2 separate regions of the Homo sapiens genome follow, and region 2 is linked to region 1. Evidence: fine-mapped expression QTL. A gene starts in region 1. The other region holds a variant in brackets. All regions are shown on one strand. Distances are between the middles of the regions. Region 1 holds the start of SNTG2-AS1 (SNTG2 antisense RNA 1). Region 2 overlaps SNTG2 (syntrophin gamma 2).

Evidence for each region.
Region 2: its variant is fine-mapped to the expression of SNTG2-AS1 in whole blood (TOPMed, PIP 0.95).

What each region holds. Positions count from the first base shown.
Region 1 is chr2:948,887-954,266 of GRCh38, forward strand. It overlaps SNTG2-AS1 (SNTG2 antisense RNA 1), which reads right to left and starts at 2,506. Exons shown (of 3, transcript NR_136151.1): 1 at 2,399-2,506; 2 at 1,025-1,500; 3 at 748-915. SNTG2 (syntrophin gamma 2) reads left to right here and starts at 1,963. Exons shown (of 17, transcript NM_018968.4): 1 at 1,963-2,182. The coding sequence starts at 2,111. RefSeq lists a silencer at 1,872-2,001.
Region 2 is chr2:1,172,543-1,177,922 of GRCh38, forward strand. It overlaps SNTG2 (syntrophin gamma 2), which reads left to right. Exons shown (of 17, transcript NM_018968.4): 8 at 550-641. Among named protein-coding and RNA genes, the nearest start is that of SNTG2-AS1, 220 kb to the left of the region's middle. The variant A/G (reference allele first, on the strand shown) is at 2,751.

The sequences.
Region 1 (5,380 bases):
AGTATTTAAAATAAGCAAAATAACCCTTACGTGCAGTCCTGACACAGATGCATAAAAGCAGATAGGCAGTTAAAACTTGAATTAATTAGCCTTTCAAAAGCAGCCCCAGAGCGCCTACGACGTCCTGGAATCACAAAATTTTATTATAGAAAGGATTCCAGAGATTGTTAGCCAAAACTACATTATTTTACAAATGAATTAACAATTACCTTTGGTCTGAAAAACAAAAATATATGTGTCTATTCATTTAACGATAAAATTTTAACAAAAACTTGTCTCTCAAAGTCAACATTTATGCATGCAACACGCTGTTTTTCCTTCTTCAGGCCCTGGAATAGAATGTCCCTTTGCAAGGTAATGAGACAATATCTTTGTGCTATTTGTAGACATTTAATTTCTCAGAGATTATATGCACGCTCTTTTAAAAATGCAATTTAAAGGCAAACAATAATCTCTTGTACTTTTTCTTATTCTAGGTTTTGCTACAAATAAAAAGTAATACAATATTTTTTACCAATTCACCCAAGAAGCATATTTTGTAACAGCCACTGTGCCACGTATAAAAAGACCTGGTTTTTGCTATTCAAGAGCTTGTCCTCTGGTTAAACTGAGTGCTAAGAAGTGCTGGCAGACTGCCGTGAAGGTGAAACAGGAATACAGAGAATAGAGAAATGGGGAAGGGCGTCTGTGTTCGAAACCCAGGTCTGCTCAGGGGTCAAGCAAGTCGGAGTCAGAAAAAGTAAAGTGTTTAACATCGAGTTTTCAATATTTATTTGTTTACAATGCGTCACATTCTGCTCCTAGATAGGGTTAACCTCTGAAGACCTCAGATTTCGCTGCTTTTCCTTGCCGTGGAGAGGGAATAAAACGGGCATCGTGGCCTCCGCGATGGGCGCTCGTGCCTGGGTCGAAGGACTGGGGGGCGGAGGATTTGGAAAGGGAGAAAAATACGGGCTGGCTTCTTTTTAAAAAATGTGGGTAGCCTTGCCTGCCCCCGCCGCACTGGAATTTATCCTAAACTTACTTTCATTTACATTAAAACAAGACGATTTGAGTCTACCAAACCCAATACTGCATCTGTGAGGCTCCTTTTGGCACAAACCTGAATGAACAGCGGGAAACGCCGTCTCCCCTGGCGTCTGAGATCTGGGGTCCCCTCCCCACCTGGTCTCCTCGCTCCCGCCCCAGCCCCGTGCGCCCCAGGAGGGCACCGCCGAGCGCCGGGTCCCCGCAGGGTTCGGGAGACTCCGCGGACCGGAGGAGGGATAGGACCCCCGAGCTTTGGGGGCGGGAAGGGAGGGTGGAAGGAGGAGGGGAGCGGGGTTGGGGAAAGTTGGAGCTTCGGTATCTTTTCTCCGGGCCAGGCCGTCCTCGGGGCCCTGCGCTGCGTCTCCAAGTGCTGGGAAGACTCCGCGGGGAAAGGTCTGAGGACGCGGCCGGCTGGCACAGGTGTGGCGGCTTCAGAGGGCCGGGGAGAACCCATGGCTTCGAGGCTGTGGACTAGAAATGTCCCTGATTAGAAGCTGAGAACCTTTGGCCAGGGAGGTGGGGCGGCGGGGAGGGGTCGTCAAGCCGGTCCAGAGCGCGCCCACCTGCGCCACAAGGGAGAAGAGGTGCCCCCCGCCCCCCTCCGCCCACCGCCGCCACGATGCGCCGCGGACCTCGGCGACCCAGCCCGGGTAGAAGCGCGCGCTCCCCTCCTCCAGCCTCGTGCGCCGGCCCCTGCCCCGCCAGCCCCGCTATGGTCCCCCATCCACCCCCGCGGGAGCGCCCCTGTCCCCCCATCCTGCACTTCCCCCAGAGTCGCGCGCCAGTTTCCCGCCCCGTGGAAGCGCCCCTCTCCCGACTTCGGCTGATCCCCGCTCGCCGCCCTCCCCGCGGGTGCGCGCCCGGCCCCTCCCTCGCCCGGGGCGGGTCTGCGTGGGCGGTGCTCCGGGTCGGCGGGCGGAGCTCCGGTTCCCCAGCCCTGCGCCCCGGTGGAGCCCGAGCCGGAGCCGGCAGAGGGGCGCGGGCGCGGACGCGGCGCCTGGCGGGGCCCTGGGAGGCTCGGACGGGGTCCTGGCGTTGAGCTCGGCCGGCCCGGAGCGCGGACCCAGCCGCAGGGGCGGCGATGGGCACCGAGGGACCCCCGCCCCCGGCCGCCTCCCGCGGACGCCAGGGCTGCCTGCTGGTACCTGCGCGGGTGAGTGCGGCCCCTCAGCGCCCCTTCACCTCCGGCCCCCCTTCCCTCTCCTTCGCGCCCTTCTCCCCCCGCCCCTCCTCCCTCCACGCCCCCTCGCTCCCCGCGACCCCTTCCCTGTCTCCGGGGACGGCTGGCCGGAGGGTGGGCGCCGGAGCCCCGGGACGCAGTGGGCACCCGCCCCCTGGCCGCTCTGCTCCCTCCAGCCCAGTGTCTTACTGGAAACTTGCAGGCTTTGCTCCTCCAGCGTCTTCCAAGGTTTGGTTTTGAGGCGCCCGGGCTTCCCTTTACTGCGTGGGAAGTAGTGCTTTCCAGAATTTGGGATTTGAGATTGGCCCGGCATTGCTTCCCAGGAGCGGCTCTTTCGGGCCCAGGCGGTGGCTCGGACCGGAGCGTCCCCCCTGCAGCCTTCGGGCGCCCAGGCCAGGTCTGAGTTGGCCAGTTTGAGCCCAGCCAGGTGCATGGCGCGGCCTCGGCAGGTGCTGGGGGCTCTAGGCCATTCGGGGAACCGCTGGGACGCCAACTGGGTAATACGGATTTCTTTTTTGAAGTCTATTCTGGTTCCCACCCTAAATAACTCCCTCTTCACCTTCTTATTTTTAAATAACTAAACTATTGATTGACAGAAAACAGAAATGTTGGCCCAAAGAAAAACGAAAAGTTCTTGGAAACCTTCAAGTTGCCACCCACAGCACAGCCTCGAGTTGTGAAAACAGTTTAAGGGAGCACGTGGCCACCCCAGCCCTAGGAGGCTGCCGAGAAGCGCGGCTGTTAATGAAAATGCATTGACAACCACTCCTTTAGGATTCCTTCCCCAGGAGCTCCCAGTCCCAGGAGCGACCAGGAATACAGTTAGCCCTCCCTTATAGGACAGTGGAGAGACGGTTCAGAAGGCCACGGGTTGAGGGCTGCTACAAATTCCTATCGTCATAATAATGATTCTAAACTAGGACTGTGGTCGTCGCTACTGTGATGTTAAAAAGATTTCTATGTAGAGACAGGTGCATCTTCATTCAAGTAGCACCTTTCTGGGCTTTTACTACAAAATATGAAAATTAAATTTCATGTAAAATGTGGGTGTTCGTTTCTTGAAGTACTTTGTAATATGAATAGCTATCCCACTGTTGCCCATGGTAATCAAACCCGAGAAAATATGCGGGGATTACCTGGAAATAAACCGCAGTAAAAACTGCAGGCGCTGTGGAATCACAGGCTTTCCGTCTGGTCACTGCCTTCAGCTTTATAATGATGCCCTCCCACGGTTAGGGATTGTGCATTTTTCTCCAGACATTCGAGCAAAGCAATTCTTGCTTTTAATCATTGTAATTATAGCGGAAGCGTTGAAGTGGATTCATCATACTTCATGATTGACCCACTTGATGAGTTATTGGCAATAACGTCAACAAATAAAGCAACTGCGCGTATTCTAGTAAATGCTCTCCTTTGCGCTCAGTATTAATTAAGGTGCTAAATTTGATGTTTTCCAGTCAAGAGTGGCCTCTGCTCACCTGTTTGCTACAAGATGTGATTGGCGCTTTCTTTCTAATAAGGACCTTGATTATTTGAAACAGCCTGTCTGAATTGTATTGAAAGAAACTTTTTTTTTAGCGTTGGAGGCCAAGTATTACAATAAGATGGAGCATTTTAAGAGCAAGACTCCTAACTTTGCAGTCATAAGTAATTAGGTATGTGCTAAGCCTACCTTAGACACCAGTGCATGGTCATGTTAGCTCAGATTCTTATGTATTTAAAACGAATCTGTTAAGTATTGGTGTTGGCAGGTTTGTCTTGAAAACATGAATGTTCTTAGTATACAATGTCATCCTTACTTAATGGCAGAATTATTTTCTTACCATAACTGCACAATATTATTCAACTTGTGTAATTATTTAATCATTTCAGTTAAGAGAACTTGGTGCTTTTAACTAGAAAAAGATGAAAGTCTTTTCTAAATCTTATATTTCTAGTTATATTTTTTCTATCTGAAGTCAAAACTATACACATTCTTTATCATGACTGCTTGTTTGAATCATGGAATTTGGCCACGTTTGAAGGTCTCCTGTTCGGTAACAGACCTGTTTTGTTTCCCCTTTCAAGTGCCTGTTCCCGATGTTTTTTTCTAAGTTAAGTGAGTTCATGGAGCTCTGTCTCTGACCATACCTGGATTTGAGGGGTAAAATCCCACTGGCAGACAACCTCAGTACAATGTGCGAAGTGTGTCTTGCTTGTAGCTTCAAAGACTACTATTGGTTGATGTTTACAGCACATTTGCTGCTTTTAAATGACAACACTTCTTCAGTCTGGGGCGCTGGAAGAATTATTGGCATGAGCCGGGAACATGCCCATTTATGTGATGAGCTTGCCCACTGAAGGGGGAAAGCACGTTAGGTCATTTTAAAGGTGCATGTGGGGTAAGGGCACCACCTAATCATCTGTTTACAGATGTGAATTGCTGCATGAGATGAATGAAGCATCTGAGCTCCTAAGAAGGTTCCCCATTCCTTCTATGCTTTGGTTATGTTTCTCATCCTTGCTGACTCATCTTTAATTTCAACTGTAGAATTTCTATTGACGTCTATGACATCATAAGCAAAATCCATGCATTACAAAGCAGGCAGTTACCTGACTTTACCAGGAGACATGGAGACATGTTCCCCAGTAAATATTTGAATGAGGTCCAATTAAGAAAAGTGTGCCTTGTTTTTGTTTTTGTTTTTTTCCAACATGGGATGTTAAAATTGCCTTGTTTTCTGAATGGTGTATGTGGAGCAACAGCTTCTTGTCTCTGGATATCTTTATGGATGATGACTGTAGACAAGGCATTTAAGCTTCAGTTTTAATTTAGATCTGCTTCTCAAGATACCCCATGAGGCTCTGAGTGAGTTGGCAGAGGGGCTGGCATTGCAGTTCTCGGTGACAGAGGGTGTGTTTGCATCGCAGGCCTCCTATTTACTAAATGGGTATATTCAGGATAGACTTACTAAGCAGTGTGATTTTCTGGCTTTCCTGTTAGCTCATGTAGCATGTGACAGCAGGCACACGAGGGACCCCAAAGAGGAGCTGCTCTCAGGCTCTGCTGCGCACCCCTAGCTCCTGCGCTGCTGGGCATGGGGCGGACACAGGCAGGTGCTCGTGGAAATGGAGAAGGAAGGAGGGAGATCAGGGTTCCAGGGAACTCAGAGAACCCCGGCTTCGGGAACC
Region 2 (5,380 bases), 220 kb after region 1:
TGAAGATCTATGAACTGGCTTGTTTCTGTTTAGCAGGTGTAAGCTCTGGTTGCATGAGCCTGTATTTCCAGGGAAATTATTTTATGAGCACCTGTTTTACCTGTAATGTGCTAAGTGCTTTGAGTGTGAGCTTTTCAATATTGTCTCTGGAAAAAACCTTTTGAGTGGCCTGGTATGATCATCTCCTTTCAAAAGAGAACACTGCAATCACAGAAGGCGCCTTGTGCTGACCATTCCAGGGGGTCATGTTGACAGGGAGGGCCTGAGCTGCTGGGGGCACACCTTCCTGATGCTGTCCCTCCACCCTGGGGAGCCCTCACAGGAGCCGGCAGTGGTCCCTCCCTTCAACCTGAGGTCAGATCTTGGTGAGGAGACCATATCACAGCAGGAAAGTGAGAGGCCATTGGGGATGACCCAGCCCATAACTGGACACCAGGCATTTTGGTGCTGGTAACTTCCCATGCACAGGTAGAACTGAAGTCACTGCATGGTCACAGTGTGCTTTGTCAGTGGCACCAATTGGAAGGGACTTCTCTTGTTTTGCTGCAGGGTCCCCAGGGCCATCCAGCGACCACAGCAGTGGGGCCTCCTCTCCCCTCTTTGACAGCGGTTTGCATCTGAACGGAAACTCCAGTACCACAGTAAGCATATAGATTTTTGTTAAATTTTATTTTAACAGAAATATCAGTAGCCCAGAGATAATCTCTAGACAGAATTAAAAAGATGCTGTACTGCCCAGTGAAGATAATTGTGTTAGTTTCAGAGGAAATACTTAGAACACAGATTGAAGGTGCTGTTCTGTTGACATTTACTCCCACGTGGGACACATCCTGATTGCATTATAGGATATTTTAAGTTCATAATTCACAGCATCTCAGTGAGCAGGCAAGAATTCTTTGAGTCCTGCCTCTGACTTACATATCACCGTGACTGTAGGAAGGACTGCAGGTTATTTTTAGGAAACTTCTGTGAGACTCCCATGAATTTCTTAACAGAAAACACCTAAGGAGGTATGAACACTGTATAATGCAGTGAGTTTTAATCACATTCTAAATATCCACCCTCCCAAGAAAACCAGACTTGAGCAAAAAGGAGAACCTGCAGCTCCCTGGGACATGGGGCTCCCGCCCTCCTCCCTCAGAAGCCTGGGCTCTGAGAGAACCTGTAGCTCCCTGGGGCATGGGGCTCACACTCTCCTTCCTCAGAAGCCTGGGCTCTGAGAGAACCTGCAGCTCCCTGGGACACAGGGCTCACGCCCTCCTCTCTCAGAAGCCTGGGCTCCAACTCCCGCAGGGTGACCTGTGAGCTGCGCCCCTTGGGGAATTCATCATCCACAGAGGCATTAGTGCACGAGAAATGTAGAATCCTGTAAGCAGTTTGAAAAAATGTTTTATTATAAATCATTCCAGTCAAATCATCAAAATGACTGGATACTTCATACACAGGGAGAACCTAGAGAAAAATATTCATGTTTGTACAATCTATGTTTAAGATGTCTGACTACTCCATTTCTAACCATTTAATTGAGCTCCTGAAATTAAAAATTGCATTTAGACTCTGTGTCAGTTATGAAGCAAAATAATAAAACAAATGCCCATGAAATTGCAGTTCTAAGCAATAATTAGAATATTGTCCCTAGCTTTCCATCTGTGCAGTCTTCCATACTCCATTTTCTGGCCTGCCCAGAGATATAAGGCATCCTGAATTTTGTGTTTGTCATTTTCTTGATTGAAAAAAAGTTTTATCCATATATATATATATATATATGTAAAATTTCATTTTATTGCAAGGCTTATAAAATATTATTCTTCCATAGTCTTCTGAGATTTGCATGTTTACTTACTGTTTGTTTCTGTGAGGTTTTTTGCTGTATGATATTTCACTACAGTTTATCCATTGTCAGTTGCCTGTGGACACTTTGCCTTTGTTTTATGTTTGTTTTTCTAGTTTATCATCATTAAAAGAGGTGCAGCCATAAAGATACTTATAAATGTCTCTTGGCTATTCCATAAGGTAGAATTTCTGAGTGCTAGATTATACCAGGATGTTCTATTTTCAAAATAACAGCAAGTTTTCTACAAAAGTGGCTGTGCAGTTTATATTCACACAGCTCTGGGAAATTCCAGTTGAGCCACAGCCTCTCCAGTGCTAGGTAATTTTTGACTTAATATTTGAAGTACAGTAGCTGTAAAATGGTTCTCTCTCTGGGGCTCTATTTCATTTCCATCATTACTAATGAGTTTTGTTTACTGTTTCTATTTGTATTTTCCTTTGGTTTTTCCTCTTCTGTGAAATGCTGTTTATCTCTTTGGCACATTTACTGTTAAGGTGATCTTTTTTCTTACAAATCCATTGAAATGTTTAATATACACTTGGTAATAATATTTTGGTGGTAATGGGTTAAAAATCTCTTCCTACAGCTTATAACTTGGCTTTTTCATTTTGTTTGTGCTATCTTCTGTGGTTTTGTGGTTTTAGGATTTTGTTCAAGAAATCTTTCTTATCTTAAGTTCATAAAGACACTTCCTTATATTTTCCTCTAAATATTGTTAACGTTTGCTTTTCACATTAGATCTCTAAATCCCATGAGATCTGCTTTTATTAAAGCTGTGAAAGGTAGAGTTCCAGGTGCATTTTTATGGGTAACCAGTTGTCTCAACACTATTTCTGGGTAATCTGCACTGCCACGGCTCACAAGTAACCAGCACCATGAGCGCAGGCGTGTGCTGCTGAGACCTCTGTTGTATTCT[A/G]TTGGTCAATATCAATGGCAATATCACACTATGTAATTACTAGGTATTTATAATCAATTTGTGTCATCTGTAGGCCTTGCCCTCTTGCCACCTCCTAACTCACTCTATTTTTTCCATCCTCTCTCTTTGTTTTTTCTTGTGAATTTCAATAGCTCTTGATCCAGTTCTACAAAAAACAGTGTTGGGATTTTGACTGTAATTGCCAGATTTACTGGGGAGAATCAAACCTTTCTGACTCACCTTTCCTGCTTATGGAAAGCATATTTATTTGTGCTATCTTTGAATTAATGCTGCTCCATTTCTTTCCATATTATTTAATATTTTCCTACAGAGTCTTTTTAAAATTAATTTTACAAGAGGATTGTACAATTCCATTTGTCTGCAACACCCTGTCCCCCAAGCCAGCACAGTTCAGCAGGGAGAAACTGTCCTCCTACCCTTTCTGTGCAGTTATCCTCAGGGTTTTTCTCCCATTGTGTGGCTGTAGCTTGTTGAGTGGACTCTAAACTCTTCCTGGAAGGAGACACAGAGCATGGGGCATGATTCGGTGCCATTTCAGGAAAGGTCAGACAGTCTTTGTGGCTCTGGTAAGTGCAGTGGAAAAGTAACACGACAGTATCGTTGAAGGGAGGCTGCCTGGTTCTCCTGGTTCTCCCAGTTCTCCTGGTTCTCCCAGCTCTCCTGGTTCTTCAGGCTTTGGTGGATGTGATCCTCATGTCAAGGAGTAATTGTGGAATTATGGAGGGGACATGGGTAGAGTGACTAGCCTAATGCTTGGAATATGTCATCTTCAGACATCCTCATCCTCCTTATCAGCAAGAGAAAGAGAAAAAGAAGTGCTAACCTTAAAATTCTTTGTAGTTATTCATATGGTTAGCTCAGCTCCAGAATAAAGCATCATCAGGTTATTTAAACTCATTACAGGGAATCTGAATTGCAGAGTTTAAAAATAGCTTTAATATGTTCGTTTTAGAAGGCTATCAAGACTCAATATTGAGACCTACCTGAGGGTGAAGGGTGGGAGGAGGGAGAGGATCAGAAAAAATAACTATTGAGTATTAGGATTAATACCTGGGTAAAGAAATAACCTGTATAACAAGCCCCCATAACACAAGTTTACCTATATAACAAACCTGCACATGTACCCCTGAACCTAAAATAAAGTTTGTTTTTATTTTAAATAAAAACTTAAACAAAAGTTGACAAATGGGATCTAATTAAAGAGCTTCTGCACAGCAAAAACAACTATCATCAGAGTGAACAGGCAAGTTACAAAGTGGGAGACAATTTTTGCAATCTATCTGTCTGACAAAGGTCTAATATCCAGAATCTACAAGGAACTAAAACAAATTTACAAGAAAAAAAAAAACATTAAATGTGGGCAAAGGACACGAACAGATACTTCTCAAAAGAAGACATTCATGTGGCCAACAAGCAGATGAAGAAAGGCTCATCATCACTGATCCCCAGAGAAATGCAAATCAAAACCACAATGAGATACCATCTCAGGCCAGTCAGAATGGTGATCATTAAAAAGTCAGATGATGTCGAGGTTGCAGAGAAATAGGAACACTTTTTCACTGTTGGTGGGAATGTAAATTCATTCAACCATTGTGGAAGACGGTGTGGTGATTCCTCAAAGGTCTAGAACCAGAAATACCATTTGACTTAGCAATCCTATTACTGGGTATATACCCAAAGGAATGCAAATTATTCTATTACAATAATACATGCATGTGTATATTAATTGCAGCACTATTCACAATTGTAAACACATAGATCAACCCAAATGCCCATCAATGATAGACTTGATAAAGGAAATGTGGTAGAGATACACCATGGAATACTATGCAGCCATAAAAAGGAGCAAGACTATGTCCTTTGCAGGGACATGGATGAAGCTGGAAGCCATTATCCTCAGCAAAATAAGGCAGGAACAGAAAAGCAAACACCACATATTCTCACTTATAAGTGGGAACTGAACTATGAGAACACATGGAGGGGAACAGCACACACTGGGGCCCGGCAAGGGGTGGGGGCCATGGTGGGAGGGAGAGCATCAAGAAAAAATAGCTAATGGATGCTGGGCTTAATACCTAGGTGATGGGTTGATAGGTGCAGCAAACCACCATGGCACACGTTTACCAATGTAACAAACCTGCACATCCTGCAGATGTACTCTGGAACTTAAAAATAAAAATTAAAAAAAAAAAACTTTAAAAGGAACCAGAAGTTAAAAAGAAAATGATAGTAAAATTGACAACTTCTTTCTCAACAAAAACAAGAGAAGCTAGAGGAAATGAAATGACACCTTTGAAGTATGAAAAAGAAATTAATTCCTGTTTAAAATTCTATAATACCCAGCAAACGTGCTTCAAAAGAAAAAAATAATATATTTTCTGACAAAAAAGAGATAATTATTTCCAGTAGACCAGCACTTTAAATTTATTTTTTTTGAAAAGGAAACTAAGCATACCCACATAGCCCTTAAAGTTGACATGCACTTCTTGAGGTGATAAAAGGTTATTGGCACACTGCTGAATGAAAACAACATTTAAATAATTTCTTTTATATTAATTTGTCATAAAAGATTAGCAGTGATTGCATCTGTTGTTAAATATGAGATAATT